2 linked regions of the Homo sapiens genome follow. The protein of the gene in region 1 purifies or fractionates together with the protein of each later gene. This does not show direct contact. Each region holds a gene or a part of one and is shown in the gene's direction. Other genes may lie near its edges. The genes, in order: MOGS and RRP1.

Region 1 (8,739 bases):
GTCACCCAGACTGGAGTGCAGTGGCGTGACCTTGGCTCACTGCAGCCTCCGCCTCCCGGGTTCCAGTGATTCTCCTGCTTCAGCCTCCTGGGTGGCTGGGATTACAGGCATGTGCCACCACGCCTGGCTGATTTTTGTATTTTCAGTAGAGATGGGGCTTTGCCATGTCAGCCAGGCTGTCCTCAAACTCCTGATCCGCCCCCTCGGCTTCCCAAAGTGCTGGGATTACAGGCATGAGCCACTGTGCCCGGCCTGCAACTCTTAATTCACCCATTTGTGGAACTTCTCTCCCTCTTGGGTCCTTTTTCTTTTGAACCACACAGGTGTTCTACCTTCATTCTTTTTCTTCTCTATTTTTTTCTGGGGCATCTCATCCTCTTTCACAACTTGAATTACACCTTCTGGGGTTAAACTATTTCTGTTTGGTTCTAATCCCAACTTCTATGCTATAATCAGGTTACCTGCTACCAATTTCCTCCAAATCCCACCAACTCTCTTTGTATAAAATAGAATTGATAATCTTACATACACATATACTTGCCTCTCTTCCCTGACTTACCCATTCCTTTTTAAAAACAGGCACTTCATCTACTCAGCCACCTGGGCTGGAAACCAGTGTTCTCTAGTTCTGTTCCTTTCCATTCTCTGCATATCTGGTCACTCAGTTCAGAATATTCTGTCTTTTAAAAAAGTGCCTGAAAGTTGGGCAAGGTGGCTCATACTTGTAGTCCCACCTACTCAGAAGGCTGAGACAGGAGGATCCTTTTGAGCCTAAGAGTTCAAGGCTAGAGTGAGCTGTGGTTGCACCACTACACTCTAGCCTGGTGACAGAGCAAGACACTGTCTCAAAAACAAAACAAAACTTCTGAAGTGATCTCTCCATTCCCATTCACTCTATTCATCATTATTGCATTCTGCTACCCAGTCTATTTCCTAAATATTTTTGCTGCCACTTAATTTTATCCTTCCAAAACATGCGATGGGTTTTATCTCTCACTACTCCCTGTTTAAGAAAACAGTGCCGGCCGGGCATGGTGCCTCATGCCTGTAATCCCAGCACTTTGGGATTTGGCCGAGGTGGGTGGATCATGAGGTCAGGAGTTCGAGACCAGCCCAACCAACATGGTGAAACCTCATCTCTTAAAAATACAAAAATTAGCCGGGCGTGGTGGCAGTTGCCTGTAATCCCAGCTACTCAGGAGGCTGAGGCAGGAGAACTGCTTGAACCCAAGAGGTGGAGGTTACAGTGAGCCGATACTGCACCACTGCACTCCAGCCTGGGTGACAGAGCAAGACTCCGTCTCAAAAAAAGAAAAAACATTGCCTAAACTGTTTTTCATACTTCCTCAACACTCATTAGTGTGGACCATGCAATCAATTTAGGGAGTTAAACCATTCTTTTTTTTTTTTTTTAGATAGGGTTTCGCTCTTGTTGCCCAGGCTGGAGTGCAATGGCACAATCTCAGCTCATTGCAACCTCCGCATCCCGGGTTCAAGCAATTCTCCTGCCTCAACCTCACAAGTAGCTGGGATAACAGGCATGCACCACCATGCCTAATTTTGTACTTTTAGTAGAGGGGGTTTCTCCATGTTGGTCAGGCTGGTCTCGAACTCCTGGCCTCAGGTGATCTACCCACCTCGGCCTCCCAAAGTGCTGGTATTACAGGCATGAGCCACCGCACCCAGCCTAAACCATTCTTAAAAAAATAATAATAATAAAATAAAATAAAAAAAGTAGGCCGGGTGGAGTGGCTCATGCCTGTAATCCCAGCACTTTGGGAGGCTTTGGCGGGCAGATCACTTGAGGTTGGGAGTTAGAGACCAGCCAGGCCAATATGATGAAACGCTGTCTCTACTAAAAATAAAAAAATAAAAAATAGCTGGGTGTGGTGGCAGGCACCTGTAATCTCAGCTACTCAGAAGGCTGAGACAGGAGAATCACTTGAACCCAGGAGGTGGAGGCTGCGCTGAGTGGAGATCATGCCACTGCACTCCAGCTCGGTTGATGGAGTGAGACTCTGTCTCAAAAAAAAAAAAAAAGTAGAATAGAATAAAAATTATCAGACTGAGGCTGAGTTTAATGGCTCATGCCTGTAATCCCATCACTTTGAGAGGCCGACGTGGGCGGAATCACCTGAGGTCAGGAGTTCAAGACCAACCTGACCAACATGGTGAAACCCCATCTCTACTAAAAATACAAAAAATTAGCCGGGTGTGGTGGCGGGCACCTGTAATCCCAGCCACTTGGGAGGCTGAGGCAGGAGAATTGCTTGAACCCGGGAAGTGGAGGTTGCAGTAAGCCGATAGCACCATTGCACTCTAACCTGGTTGACAAGAGCAAGGCTCCATCTCAAAAAAAAAAAAAAAAAAAATCAGACTGCATGGCACTTAGAATAGGAAGTTTAAAGAGATTAAGTCATGCTTTGTCACCCAGGCTGGAGTGCAGTGGCACAATCGTAGCTCACTGCACCCTCCATCTCCTGGGCTCAAGCAGTCCTCCCGCCTCAGCCTCCCAAGCAGCTGGAATTACAGGCGTGAGCCACCATGCCTGGCCTAATTTTTTTTTTTTTTTTTTGAGATGGAGTCTTGCTCTGTTGCCCAGGCTGGAGTGCAGTGGAGCACGATTTTAGCTCACTGCAATCTCTGTCTCCTGGGTTCAAGCGATTTCCAGCTAATTTTTGTATTTTCAGTAGAGACAGAGTTTCACCATGTTGGCCAGGCTGGTCAGGAACTCCTGACCTCAAGTAATCCACCCTCCTTGGCCTCCCGAAGTGCTAGGATTACAAGAGTAAGCCACCGTGCCCAGCCCTAATTTTTTTTTTTTTTTTTTTTTGAGACGGAGTCTTGCTCTGTCGCCGATGGTGCCATCTCAGCTCACTGCAACCTCTGCCTCCCGGGTTCAAGTGATTATCCTGCCTCAGCCTCCTAAGTAGCTGGGATTACAGGCGCGTGCCACCATGCCCAGCTAATTTTTGTGTTTTTAGTAGAGGCGGGGTTTCACCATGTTGGCCAGGCTGGTCTTGAACTCCTAACCTCAGGTGATCCACCGCCTCAGCCTTCCAAGGTGCTGGGATTACAGGCGTGAGCCACCACACCCGGCCAACCCTAATTTTTAAATTTTTTGTAGATGGGGGGGTCTCCTCATCTTGTCCAGGCTGGTCTAGAACTCCTGAACTCAAGTGATTCTCCTGCCTTGGCCTCCTAAAGTGCTGTGATTACAGACGTGAGCCACCACACCCAGCTAAAAGTATTCTTTTAGGTAACTTGTTTTAAATAAGTTGTGTGTGTATGTGTATCTGCACATACTGGGTTGCACTATGGAATTATTTCTTATTGTGAGTTGTAGGAAAATGGTTGAAAGCCACTGCTTTAGACACCTTCACAATGCTCAGCTAGGTAACAAAAGATCTGTAGACAGTGGCCTGCTGTGTACTTTGCCAGATACATTTCCCACGACCCTCCTACAGCAGCATTACTATACCTTTTCCCGGTCTAAAAGGGTGCTATCTTCAAAGGACCGTTTTTCCCCTCCCCCTTTAAAAAAGAAAGCTAGGAGGAGGCAGTATAGTGTTGTAATGAGCCAGACTGCTTGGGGTTGAGATCCTAGCTTTGTTTTTATGTAGCTGTATGACTTTAGACAAATTATTTAATCTATCAGTGCTTATTTCATTTGTAAAATGAAAATAATAGTACTTTTCTCATAGGACTGTTAAGGAGATTAAATGAATTAATATCTGTAAAGTACCTAAAACATTGCTGGGAGTGTAGTAACTGCTGTTATCTAAGAGGCCTTATTTATTCTTTTTTTTTTTTTTTTTTTTTTTTGAGACAAGAGTTTCGCTCTTGTTGCCCAGGCTGGAGTGCAATGGCACAATCTTGGCTCACTGCAATCTCTGCCTCCCGGGTTCAAGTGATTCTCCTGCCTCAGTGTCACGAGTAGCTGGGATTACAGGCATGCACCACCATGCCCAGATAATTTTGTATTTTTTAGTAGAGACGGGGTTTCTCCATGTCGGTCAGGCTGGTCTCGAACTCCCAGCCTCAGGTGATCCGCCCGCCTTTGCCTCCCAAAGTGCTGGGACTACAGGCTTGAGCCACTGCGCCTGCCCTAAGAGGCCTTATTCTAAAGTCAAAAGAACAACCTGGATTTGAGTTCCCCAGCTCCATAATTAACTGGCTGTTATTTTGGGTCAGTCTTAACTACTCTCCTCATCTGTAAAAATGGGGGTGGTCTGGCCAGGCGCGGTGGCTCACGCCTGTAATCCCAGCACTTTGGGAGGCCGAGGTGGGTGGATCACCTGAGGTCAGGAGTTCGAGACCAGCCTGGCAAACCTGGTGAAACTCCATCTCTACTAAAAATACAAAAATTAGCTGGGCGTGGTGGTGGGCACCTGTAATCCCAGCTACTCGTGAGGCTGAGGCAGGAGAATCACTTGAACCCTGGAGGCAGAGGTTGCAGTGAGCCGAGATCATGCCATTGCACTCCAGCCTGGTGACAGAGCGAGACTCCGTCTCAAAAAAAAAAAAAAAAAAAAAATGGGTATGGTTCAACATGCATTGAGTGCTGGCATTGTGCTTCTAGACTGTGAACTTGAGGTTGGGGCCATTTTCTCTGAGTCCCCAGCACCTTGCATAATGCGATATAGGGTGTACAATAAACATGTGTTGAATTTATAAATATTTAGCATCTGCCTTATGCCTATAATTGATTAGTACTGTGATACAAAGATGAAAAATGAAACAGGTATGTAATAAGTGCTACAATAAGGATGTCGACAAATGCAACGGTAGCAAGAAAGACAAAAACAGGACTAACCATTGGGTTTGGTCAGATGATTTCATAAGCAAAAAGTCTACCACTAGTGGAGAGTGGGGCCACCAGTCAGATTATAGTGAAATATAAGTGGTCGTGTTGCATAAAGCATCAGTCTCTCTCTCTCTCTCTCTCTCTCCCTCCGTCCCTCCCTCCCTCCCTCCATCTCTCTCTCTCTCTCTCTTTCTTTTTTTTTGAAACAGTTTCACTCTTGTTGCCCAAGCTGGAGTGCAATGGCGCAATATCGGCTCACTGCAACCTCCGCCTCCCAGGTTCAAGCAATTCTCCTGCCTCAGCCTCCCGAATAGCTGGGATTACAGGCACCCACCACCACACCCGGCTAATTTTTGTATTTTTAGTAGAGATGGGGTTTCACCAAGTTGACCAGGCTGGTCTCCAACTCCTCATGTCTGGTGATCCACCTGCCTCGGCCTCCCAAAGTGCTGGGATTACAGATGTGCGCCTCGGTGCCTGGCCACATCAGTCTTTTTTTTTTTTTTTTGAGACGAAGTCTCGCTCTGTCGCCCAGGCTGGAGTGCAGTGGCACAATCTCGGCTCACTGCAACCTCCGCCTCCCGGGTTCAAACGATTCTCATGCCTCAGCCCAACGTTAGATTGGTTTTTCCGAGCCTGTGAACTCCATGGGGTCGCCAGATAAACGCAATCCCGGTGGACCAACGCCCAGGACAGACGCTACGTACCAACCCTGTGTCAAGCCGCAGGCAGCGGTTCCGGACTCTGGGACTTAACCTAACGTGGCGGGGCGGGACTTCCGGCGGGAGGCGGAGGCGGAGGCGCAGGCGCTGGCTGGCAGGTGTCGCTAACCGGACGGTGGTCGCCAGGGCGAGAGGCGGGAGCCGGAGAGGTGAGGCAGGACCCGGGCTCCACTGCCGCCTCTCCGAGCTCTTGTGACGCGGACCTCAGTGCCAGGATGGCTCGGGGCGAGCGGCGGCGCCGCGCAGTGCCGGCAGAGGGAGTGCGGACAGCCGAGAGGGCGGCTCGGGGAGGCCCCGGGCGACGGGACGGCCGGGGCGGCGGGCCGCGTAGCACGGCTGGAGGAGTGGCTCTGGCCGTCGTGGTCCTGTCTTTGGCCCTGGGTATGTCGGGGCGCTGGGTGCTGGCGTGGTACCGTGCGCGGCGGGCGGTCACGCTGCACTCCGCGCCTCCTGTGTTGCCTGCCGACTCCTCCAGCCCCGCCGTGGCCCCGGACCTCTTCTGGGGAACCTACCGCCCTCACGTCTACTTCGGCATGAAGACCCGCAGCCCGAAGCCCCTCCTCACCGGTAACCGGGCCCCAGGGCGGGCAGGCAGGCGGACTCCTAATCTGGGCGCCCCAGCTTGAAGCGAGAGCAAGGGTGGGAAGGAATGGATCAGGAGAGTTATGAAGAGGGATGACCCGGAGACCCGGAGGGACAGGTCCCCTGCTCTTTGACTTACGTGGCCATTCTACCCCCAGGACTGATGTGGGCGCAGCAGGGCACCACCCCGGGGACTCCTAAGCTCAGGCACACGTGTGAGCAGGGGGACGGTGTGGGTCCCTATGGCTGGGAGTTCCACGACGGCCTCTCCTTCGGGCGCCAACACATCCAGGATGGGGCCTTAAGGCTCACCACTGAGTTCGTCAAGAGGCCTGGGGGTCAGCACGGAGGGGACTGGAGCTGGAGAGTGACTGTAGAGCCTCAGGTCAGGGCCTCAGGACACCCTTTTCTCAGCCCAGACCCCCTCCATCCTTCCCTTGCTGCCAGCAAATGCAGCATGAAGTGGGCTCTGGCTGCCTGGCTTAAATCCTGCCTTAAACAACTGCCTGTATAACCATTTCTATTTACCATCTCTAAGCCTTGATTTCCTTGCTTGTAAAATGTACAATGTAGATAATAATAGCACTTAACTCACAGGACTGTAAGAATTAAATGAAAAAGAGGCTGGGCGCGGTGGCTCACGCCTGTAATCCCAGTACTTTGGGAGGCCGAGGCTGGCGGATCACCTGAGGTCAGGAGTTCCAGACCAGCCTGACCAAAATGGAGAAACACCGTCTCTACTGAAAATATAAAATTAGCCGGGCGTGGTGGCGCATGCCTGTGATCCAAGCTACTTGGGAGGCTGAGGCAGGAGAATTGCTTGAACCAGGGAGGTGGAGGTTGCGCTGAGCCGAGATCGTGCCATTGCACTCCAGCCTGGGCAACAAGAGCAAAACTCCATCTCAAGAAAAAAAAAAAAGCCAGGCGCGGTGGCTCACGCCTGTAATCCCAGCACTTTGGGAGGCTGAGGCGGGCGGATCATGAGGTCAGGAGATGGAGACCATCCTGGCTAACACGGTGAAACCCGGTCTCTACTAAAAATACAAAAAATTAGCTGGGCGTGGTGGCGGGCGCCTATTGTCGCAGCTACTCGGGAGGCTGAGGCAGGAGAATGGCGTGAACCTGGGAGGCGGAGCTTGCAGTGAGCTGAGATCGCGCCACTGCACTCCAGCCTGGGCGACAGAGCGAGACTCCGCCTCAAAAAAAAAAAAAAAAAAAAAGAATTAAATGAAATCAACTGTGTAGAGTTCTTAGTGTAGGACATAGTACAAAAGTATACTGTTATCTCCCAGGGCACCCAGTGCAAGGCTCTTTATCTCATCCCGCTTGGGTGTACCTGGTTACCCTCAGTGACCCTCATTACTGCCAGACGTATGTTGTTTACATTACCCCTGCCTACTGTTCCTTTCCCTCACTAAGGCTGATTCTCAAGAGGGAATTCAAGAGAGAATGCCAATCTAACACTGTTCTTTTCTGTCCTCGTTGGTCACTCAGGACTCAGGTACTTCTGCCCTCCCTTTGGTCTCCCTGTTCTTCTATGTGGTGACAGATGGCAAGGAAGTCCTACTACCAGAGGTTGGGGCCAAGGGGCAGTTGAAGTTTATCAGTGGGCACACCAGTGAACTTGGTGACTTCCGCTTTACACTTTTGCCACCAACCAGTCCAGGGGATACAGCCCCCAAGTATGGCAGGTAACTGGGGGAAAAGAATGTTGGGGGATGGAAGGGGTGGTTATTCCCATTTTCACCAGTCTCCATGTCCCCTGCCTGAGACCTCCCAACCTGACTCCTGAACACTTTGTATTTCTCTTTATAATGCCCACTGCCTTCTCTTGAATAATATTTCCTATTTATCTTCTCCCCTTCAAGCTACAATGTCTTCTGGACCTCCAACCCAGGACTGCCCCTGCTGACAGAGATGGTAAAGAGTCGCCTAAATAGCTGGTTTCAGCATCGGCCCCCAGGGGCCCCCCCTGAACGCTACCTCGGCTTGCCAGGATCCCTGAAGTGGGAGGACAGAGGTCCAAGTGGGCAAGGGCAGGGGCAGTTCTTGATACAGCAGGTGACCCTGAAAATTCCCATTTCCATAGAGTTTGTGTTTGAATCAGGCAGTGCCCAGGCAGGAGGAAATCAAGCCCTGCCAAGACTGGCAGGCAGTCTACTGACCCAGGCCCTGGAGAGCCATGCTGAAGGCTTTAGAGAGCGCTTTGAGAAGACCTTCCAGCTGAAGGAGAAGGGCCTGAGCTCTGGCGAGCAGGTTTTGGGTCAGGCTGCCCTCAGCGGCCTCCTTGGTGGAATTGGCTACTTCTACGGACAAGGGCTGGTATTGCCAGACATCGGGGTGGAAGGGTCTGAGCAGAAGGTGGACCCAGCCCTCTTTCCACCCGTACCTCTTTTTACAGCAGTGCCCTCCCGGTCATTCTTCCCACGAGGCTTCCTTTGGGATGAAGGCTTTCACCAGCTGGTGGTTCAGCGGTGGGATCCCTCCCTCACCCGGGAAGCCCTTGGCCACTGGCTGGGGCTGCTAAATGCTGATGGCTGGATTGGGAGGGAGCAGATACTGGGGGATGAGGCCCGAGCCCGGGTGCCTCCAGAATTCCTAGTACAACGAGCAGTCCACGCCAACCCC
Region 2 (6,964 bases), on another chromosome or scaffold:
TCTTTTTTTCCTTTGCAGGCCTGAGGTGGCACCTCTCATCCTGTCCATACGAGATTAGAGGTCACATGGCACCTAGTATCTGCCTTGAGCTGTGGGCTTTCCCGCCTGTGCCCATGTTCTGACCAGGGTGCAGGGTGGGCTGTCCGTTCCCGGGTGTTTCCCGCCTGTGCCCGTGCTCCGACCAGGGTGCACGGAGCGGGCTCTCCATTCCTGGATGTTTGGGGCCAGCACACGTTGGGCACAGGTAGGGTTCACGGGGTCCCTTTTGTTCCAGGCTCCATCTGCAGGGCTGAACCTGAGGCTGGTGAGGAGCAGGCAGGTGACGACAGGGACAGTGGCGGCCCCGTTCTCCAGGTGGGTTCCCTGGGCTCATGGCTGTGCCCTCAGCCTTTGCCCCTCTGTGCTACCGCTTGCTCTGGAAGAGGAGGGGGGCGTTAGGAGGGAGGATGGCAGCTGTTGGCATGGAGAGTTACCCGGACAGGGGTTAGCTTTGAAGGAGGGATGGGTGCCCCAACCCTGCCCGCCTGTAGACGAGTGGGATCATTGAGAGTGGGGCTGGGGCCTGGGAAAGTGGGGCTGGGGCCTGGGAGGGTGGGCTCAGGCAGAACTGCATTATCCAGGGCTGGCCTCACCTCACGCTGTCCTCTTGCCTCACACATGGGCAGCCCCCCAGATTTCCTGCGGCCCCCTCGTTGGGGTGCTGGTGGGGAATGAGATGGCATGTGCCAAGCGGCTGGCCTGTGGGTCCCAGCGAGGAATCCACTCAGCCAGTGGGGTCTGACTTCAGGCAAATTGGAAACTTAAATGTTTTAAGTTTTAAATATGATTATCTGCAGACTGAATAAAATGTGGCTATCTTGGGTTAAAATTGATCAATTTAACCTATGTTGTTCGTGCTTGTCTGTGTGGTTCCTAGAGTGGTAAAGCTGCAGGCAGGCTACCGGCGGGCGTGTGCCCTGCAGTGTGCCCCGCAGTGTGCATCTTCCAGAGTGTGCCCCGCAGTGCGTGCCCCGCAGTGCGCCCGCAGCTTGTGTGGTGCCCGCTGTGCTGTAGAGTGGGTGGAGCTGCAGGACCCTCAGTGAGGGTGGGCTGTGTTCCTGTGAGCCGGGTGGAGAACCTGCAAGTGGGACCAAGTGCTATCTGGGTCTCAGGGGTTCCACGTTCTCGGAGCACGCAGAGCGTGGCTGACCTTGCCTCTGTGACGTCTCTCTTTTGAAACAGTTTGACTACGAGGCAGTTGCTAACAGACTGTTTGAAATGGCCAGCCGCCAGAGCACCCCTTCTCAGAACAGAAAGCGTCTCTACAAAGTGATCCGGAAGTGAGTGTGTGAGGGCGCTGCGTCCTCCCTGCTCCCCTTGGAGTTGCCCTTTCTTGCTCAGATCTGGGTGCCTTTGCCTTGTCCTGGGCCCTTCCGCAGCCCCCGGGGTGATCCCCGCTAGGACCCTGAGACCGTCCCCAGCCCCTGGGGTTCCCCTGGCTAGGAACCTGCAGCCGCTCTAGCTGGAGCTTCCTCCTCCTGCGGAAGCCGCAGCTGTGGTAAGTGGGTATCTGTCTTACTCTTTCAGGCTGCAGGACCTGGCAGGAGGTGAGGATCGGCCGGGCACTGACAGTGGCACCACCTTGGAGGTGGAGCTCCATCCTCGTGGGAGTGGTTTGGTTCTAGGGGTCTCATAGCACGTGGAGTCTCTTTGCAGAGAGGCCTGGTGGTGTTTCTGAGGGACAGGGAGGCAGGGCGCAGGGTTCCACAGCTCTCGTTTTTGTGGTTTTTGCTGAGTGGTTCTCAGACTTGAGTGTCCATTGGAGTGCCCCAGAGCCTGAGAGATGGGGTGCTGGCCTCAGGGGCTCCCAAGCACTGACCGCGGTGCTGCTGCTGGTCTGTTGGGCAGCACACGTCTGTTCTTGGCAGCGCGTGGCGGATGGAACTGGCATAGGTTATCGGAAGGACGGTTTCCTAGTGGGCGTCGATGGTTAGAGACGTAGGCGTTTCCCCTGGTGTTTCCTTATGAAAAGTTTCAGACCTGCAACTCAGTTGGAAGGATTTTATAGTGGATGTCTGCGTGTCCCTGCCGGCCTCCAGCATCAGCACTTCCTGTCCTTGCGTGAAGCTCCTCTATCCCAGCATCACACCCCTGCATCCGCCAGCGGGCGCGTCATCAGCTGTAGTCCAGGGTTTGGTTTTTTTATTTTTTATTTTTTGAGGCGGTGTCTCGCTCTGTTGCCCAGGATGGCGTGCAGTGGTGTGATGCAGCTCACTGCAGCCTCGATCTCCTGGTCTCAAGCGATCCTCCCGCCTCAGCCTCCCAGTCGCTGGGACCACAGGCGCACGCCACCACGCCGGCTAATTGTTGTATTTTTTGTAGAGACAGGGTTTCGCTGTGTTGCCCGGCTGGTCGTCTGGGGTTTTCGGGACAGCGCGCGTCAGTGAGGTGCGTGAGGATCGTGTGCATCTGGCAGGTTTTGATGCAGAAAGTTGCCTTGGGCCGCCAGCATGAGCATTGTAGGCTGTAGACTTTGGTGTACAGGTTGAGCGTCTCTAATCTGAAACCCCAAATCCAAAATGCCACCAAGTCCAAAGCTGAGTGCTGACAGGAAGCTCCAGGGAAATGCTCGTCGCAGTGTTTTCTGTTTGGGGTTTTCAGGTGAGGGCTGTTGAACTGGTGAATATGATGCAGACGTTCCAAAACAACCTGACATTCAAAGCACTGCTGGTCCCAGGCATTTGGGGTCGTGGACGCTCTATGCTGTACCTGTGTCCTGGATGCTCCAGGAACTGGCTTTTCCAGATGGGCTTGGGTCTCAGCTGGTTCGTTTCAGCTGTGGCGGGTACTGAACACGCTGCTCCTGGGCATTAGAACAGGGCGCTTTCTCACACACATTGTCAGGAGGTGGTGCTGGCTGGGGCCTGCTGGAAGCAGCGAGCCTCAAACCATAAGTCCCCAGCCCCCGAGAGCCCCCTGACTTCTGCCCTGGTTCTCAGGCATTTTCCCTGAAGATGAGATCCCAGAGAAGGCCTGCAGGCGCCTGCTTGAAGGGAGGCGGCAGAAGAAGACGAAGAAGCAGAAGCGTCTGCTCAGGTTGCAGCAGGAGAGAGGTAGGACTAGGGGGTGTGTTAGTCATGGAGCCGGCGTCCTCACCTGCTTGCTTCTCCCCTGGATGGGGGTCACCTGCAGTGTCTCCCCCTGAAGCATGAGTGCCGAGTCCCCCATCCTGGGTGCCTGCTATCCACGCATCCCGGAAATGCCCTGTCCTCGGCATCCCTCCTGTAGGCCTCTCCCTGCCTCCCCCACCCACCTTCCTTGTCTGCAGCTCCCCCGAGCTGTGTGCGCTGCCCTCCCTCCCGGTCTGGAGACATCCTCCTGGCTGGGCTGCCTCCTTCCGTGCCTCCGTCTTAGATCCAAGCCCCGTCCGCTCCTCTCCCGCACCCTCCAGAGATTCCTGAGTCTCTCCACGTCTTCCTTCCCCTTCTTCCCTCCACTTCTTCCCTCCACTTCTGTCCTTGATTTCTGGGGCTGCCTTCCGTGTTGGGCCTCTGGCCACACGAGTGTGGTTGGCATGTGATGCCCTCACCAGGGGCAACCCTGGGTCCGCGGCAGACCACTCAGGGCCTGGAGCTGCCTACCTGCAGTGGAGGGGGTTGAGCACAGTGCCGGGCAGGGCAGGGGGCCCATGGCAAGAATGGGGTGCAGAGGAGGCACATGGTGGCTTTGCCCCACACTGGGAAGCCTTCCCTGTTACTCTCTCCATGCTAAACTGGCCCCAGGGCCTAGGGATTCACCCCTTCCCTTGCCCAGAGCTCCGTGCCATTGAAGCCGTCCATCTCATTTCCCATGAGGCAGTGGCCTCCTCTTTGTAGCCGGCCCTTGGCTGTGTGAACCCTGTCGGCCCTGGCGTTCAGGACCTGGCACTGCCTGGCGTCCTGTTCTTCCACCTCCCCTTCTGCCTTGAGCCCAGTCCTGCCTACTCCTCTGTGCCTTTGCTCCTGGGTCTCATGACCCTGTCCTCACGCTGGTCCTTCTGAGGTCAGCCCTTGCTGAGGTCCTGAGCCGTGTGGATGGAGCTTGGCGCCCACACTGGACACGGGATGCGTCTGGCTGGCTGTTGTGGCCGTGTTGTCCTCCCAGGTCTGTGGTGCTGGCATCCTCAGCCTGAGTTGGAGTAAGTGGAAAGAGCCCGTGTTGGCATTCTCTGGCTCATGGGGTCTTGCTGTTTTGTCAGGGAAAGGTGAGAAGGAGCCCCCGAGCCCGGGCATGGAGAGGAAGAGGAGCAGGAGGAGGGGTGTAGGGGCCGACCCCGAGGCGCGGGCAGAGGCTGGTGAGCAGCCAGGCACAGCTGAGCGGGCCCTGCTCCGAGATCAGCCCAGGGGCCGTGGCCAGAGAGGGGCTCGCCAGAGAAGGAGGACACCTCGGCCCCTGACCAGTGCCCGAGCAAAGGCGGCCAATGTCCAGGAGCCGGAGAAGAAGAAGAAACGCAGGGAGTGATGTGGCCGGGCCAAGGACAGGCAGGGAGGGAGGCCAGGCCTCGCTTGCACCGCGGGACGAGGCTGACCGGGCTGTTCTGTAGACTCAGGACCGTGGCTCCAGAACTCCTGTGCCAGGCGGGAGGGAAGGGCGGCACTGGAGAGATGGGCCCATCATTAGGGGCCAGCATCCCAGGAACTGGACCTTTCCCCAGAGCCTCCGCCTGTGGCTGTGATGACCTTGGGCCAGAAGGTCAAACTCCGAAGACTGAAACTCTGCCTGCAGCAGGACTGGCCGCCCCTGCTGTGGGGGGTTCAGAAAATAAAATGCCGCGCAGCCCTTGCCAGGGGAAGTGTCGCTTCAGGTGTGTCCTACGGACGTGTGGGAGGTGGCAGGCGCCAGCCTCCGAGCAGTGTGGTGGTTTATATTCATGTTTGTGGAAAAATCTTGCAAGACATTTCTCCTTTCACAGAACTGCCCAGGTGTTAACAGGGCTGTCTGGACGGGGCTCTTTTGCTTCCCCCTCAATCTGGGGTCTAGAGTTGTGCAAGGAATTCAGCTCCAGTAAGGCCTGGATTGCCCGGGGTGAGCGTGTGTGTGGTGGGAAGACCTGGCTTCCGCGAGAGCCTTGTTCCTGGAGGCAGGAGCGCCCCGCCATCCTGGGTACCCGCGGGTCCGCAGGCTGCGCACCTCTTTCCCTCAGCCAGGTCACCCTCAGCGTCCTCCCTGCCCCTCTCCCCTTCACACCTGCTGGAGCCTGTGAGGGAGGTGGCGGGTCCCCACTGTGGCGACGGAGAGCTGACAGTAGCCCAGGGCTTTCCACCTGCATGGAACAAGGGCCTGTCTGCCGCCAGCGCTGTGGCCACAGCCTGCATAGGTGACAAGGGGCCGCTGCGTTGGGTTTTGCCCGCATCTTCTGTTCCATGGGTGCCCAGCCAGCCAGGCCGTGTGGGATCCAGCGAGAGGCCAGGGCTTGGAGTGGGCCTGGGACCAGGAAGGACCTCTAGGCTGTGGCTGGCCTTGTGCAGACCCTGGACTGCATCCGGTTCCCCAAAGCCCTGCTGCATTCGAGTGTCCCCCAACCCCGGGCAGGTGGCACCTGGTGACACCTCCTTCAGTCCCACTCAGCTGGGCGGCCGGGGCAGGCTTAGGGCACAGTTAGGGGCCAAGGAGAGGGAAGGCCAGGGCCCCTGTTCTAGGGGTTAGGGTTCTTTCCCCAAAGGAACTTAAAAAGACAAGCGTGGCCAGGCACAGTGGCTCACACCTGTAATCCCAGCACTTTGGGAGGCCGAGGTGGCCAGATCACCTGAGGTCAGGAGTTTGAGACCAGACTGACCAACATGGAGAAACCCCATCTCTACTAAAATACAAAATTAGCCAGGCGTGGTGGCACATGCCTGTAATCCCAGCTACTCGGGAGGCTGAGGCAGGAGAATTGCTTGAACCTGGGAGGCAGAGGTTGTGGTGAGCTAAGATCACGCCATTGCACTCCAGCCTGGGCAACGAGAGGGAAACTCTGTTTCAAAAAAAAAAAAAAAAAGACAAGCGTGTCTAACGTAAACTGCCGGTGGCGAGCGTCAGGTCTGGGCAGTGTCCCCTGGGCCTGGTCAGTGTTCCCCTGGGCCTGGCCTCTTTACCCCCAGCAGGGCCTGTTGGGACGAGCCCCTGCAGTTGGAGGCCTTTGGAAGGGAACGGGGTGCATTATAACGCTTTCTTGTTTTTGAAGTTTCTTTGGTCAAAAGCTAAGGAAACAACCATGCTAACAGAAGTTTCTGGAAAAAAGCAAATTAGAGATGCCGAATTGCAGTTGTGAAACTGGAAGCCACAGTGACTTTGCATCTTCTTTCACATGTGTGTTCACAGGGAGGGGTTTTTCATGGCTGCGCCGGCACTGTCACGCTCTGGCTGTTTCCAGGCCCTGCTGGGTGCACGTTTCCCCATATTCAGAATTGTTTTAAATAACCGCATTGTGCTTATGACATGAATGACTGAATTCCTCTCCTATTGGTAGCCTCTTTTACTTTTTTATTTTTTTATTTTTGAGACTGAGTTTTGAGTTGAGTTTTTTTTGAGACCGAGTTGTTTTATTTCCGCACATGAATGGTAGTTCCAGCTACTCAGGAGGCCAAGGTGGGAGAAGCGCCTGAGCCCAGGAGAGAACCATCGAGAGGTAATTCACATGGAGTACAGTTCGCCCAACTGAAGTGTGTAATTCGAGTTTTCAGCATATTCAAAGTTGTACAGCCATCACCACAGTCAACTTTAGACCATTTTCAGCCCAAAAGAAACTGGGCCATCGCCCCTCTGTCTCCCCGCCACCTGCACGCATCCTCCCGGCCTCAGGTTCCGGGCCGTGTCTGTTCTGGCCATGTGTTACGGGATCACGCAGCACCGTGGTTCCAGGGCTCATCCACACTGGAGTCTTTCCTTCATATGGCTGAGTGACATCCCACGGTACAGACAGTGCATTGCATCTGCCCGTTTGTCCACTGATGGACGTTTGGGG

The links.
Region 2: the proteins of MOGS (region 1) and RRP1 purify together in Homo sapiens (co-immunoprecipitation; 2 studies listed by BioGRID and IntAct, with this or other methods). This does not show direct contact.

Annotation. Positions count from the first base shown.
Region 1 is NC_000002.12:74,462,253-74,470,991, reverse strand, and holds the start of MOGS (mannosyl-oligosaccharide glucosidase), read left to right. Parts: upstream 1-5,609; 5' UTR 5,610-5,744; coding exon 5,745-6,096; intron 6,097-6,269; coding exon 6,270-6,496; intron 6,497-7,605; coding exon 7,606-7,802; intron 7,803-7,979; coding exon 7,980-8,739. UniProt on the Homo sapiens protein: In the context of N-glycan degradation, cleaves the distal alpha 1,2-linked glucose residue from the Glc(3)Man(9)GlcNAc(2) oligosaccharide precursor in a highly specific manner.
Region 2 is NC_000021.9:43,799,296-43,806,259, forward strand, and holds the end of RRP1 (ribosomal RNA processing protein 1 homolog A), read left to right. Parts: intron 1-274; coding exon 275-354; intron 355-1,221; coding exon 1,222-1,319; intron 1,320-1,566; coding exon 1,567-1,586; intron 1,587-2,978; coding exon 2,979-3,092; intron 3,093-4,025; coding exon of another isoform or gene 4,026-4,150; exon of another isoform or gene 4,151-4,210; intron 4,211-4,216; coding exon 4,217-4,479; 3' UTR 4,480-5,998; downstream 5,999-6,964. UniProt on the Homo sapiens protein: Plays a critical role in the generation of 28S rRNA.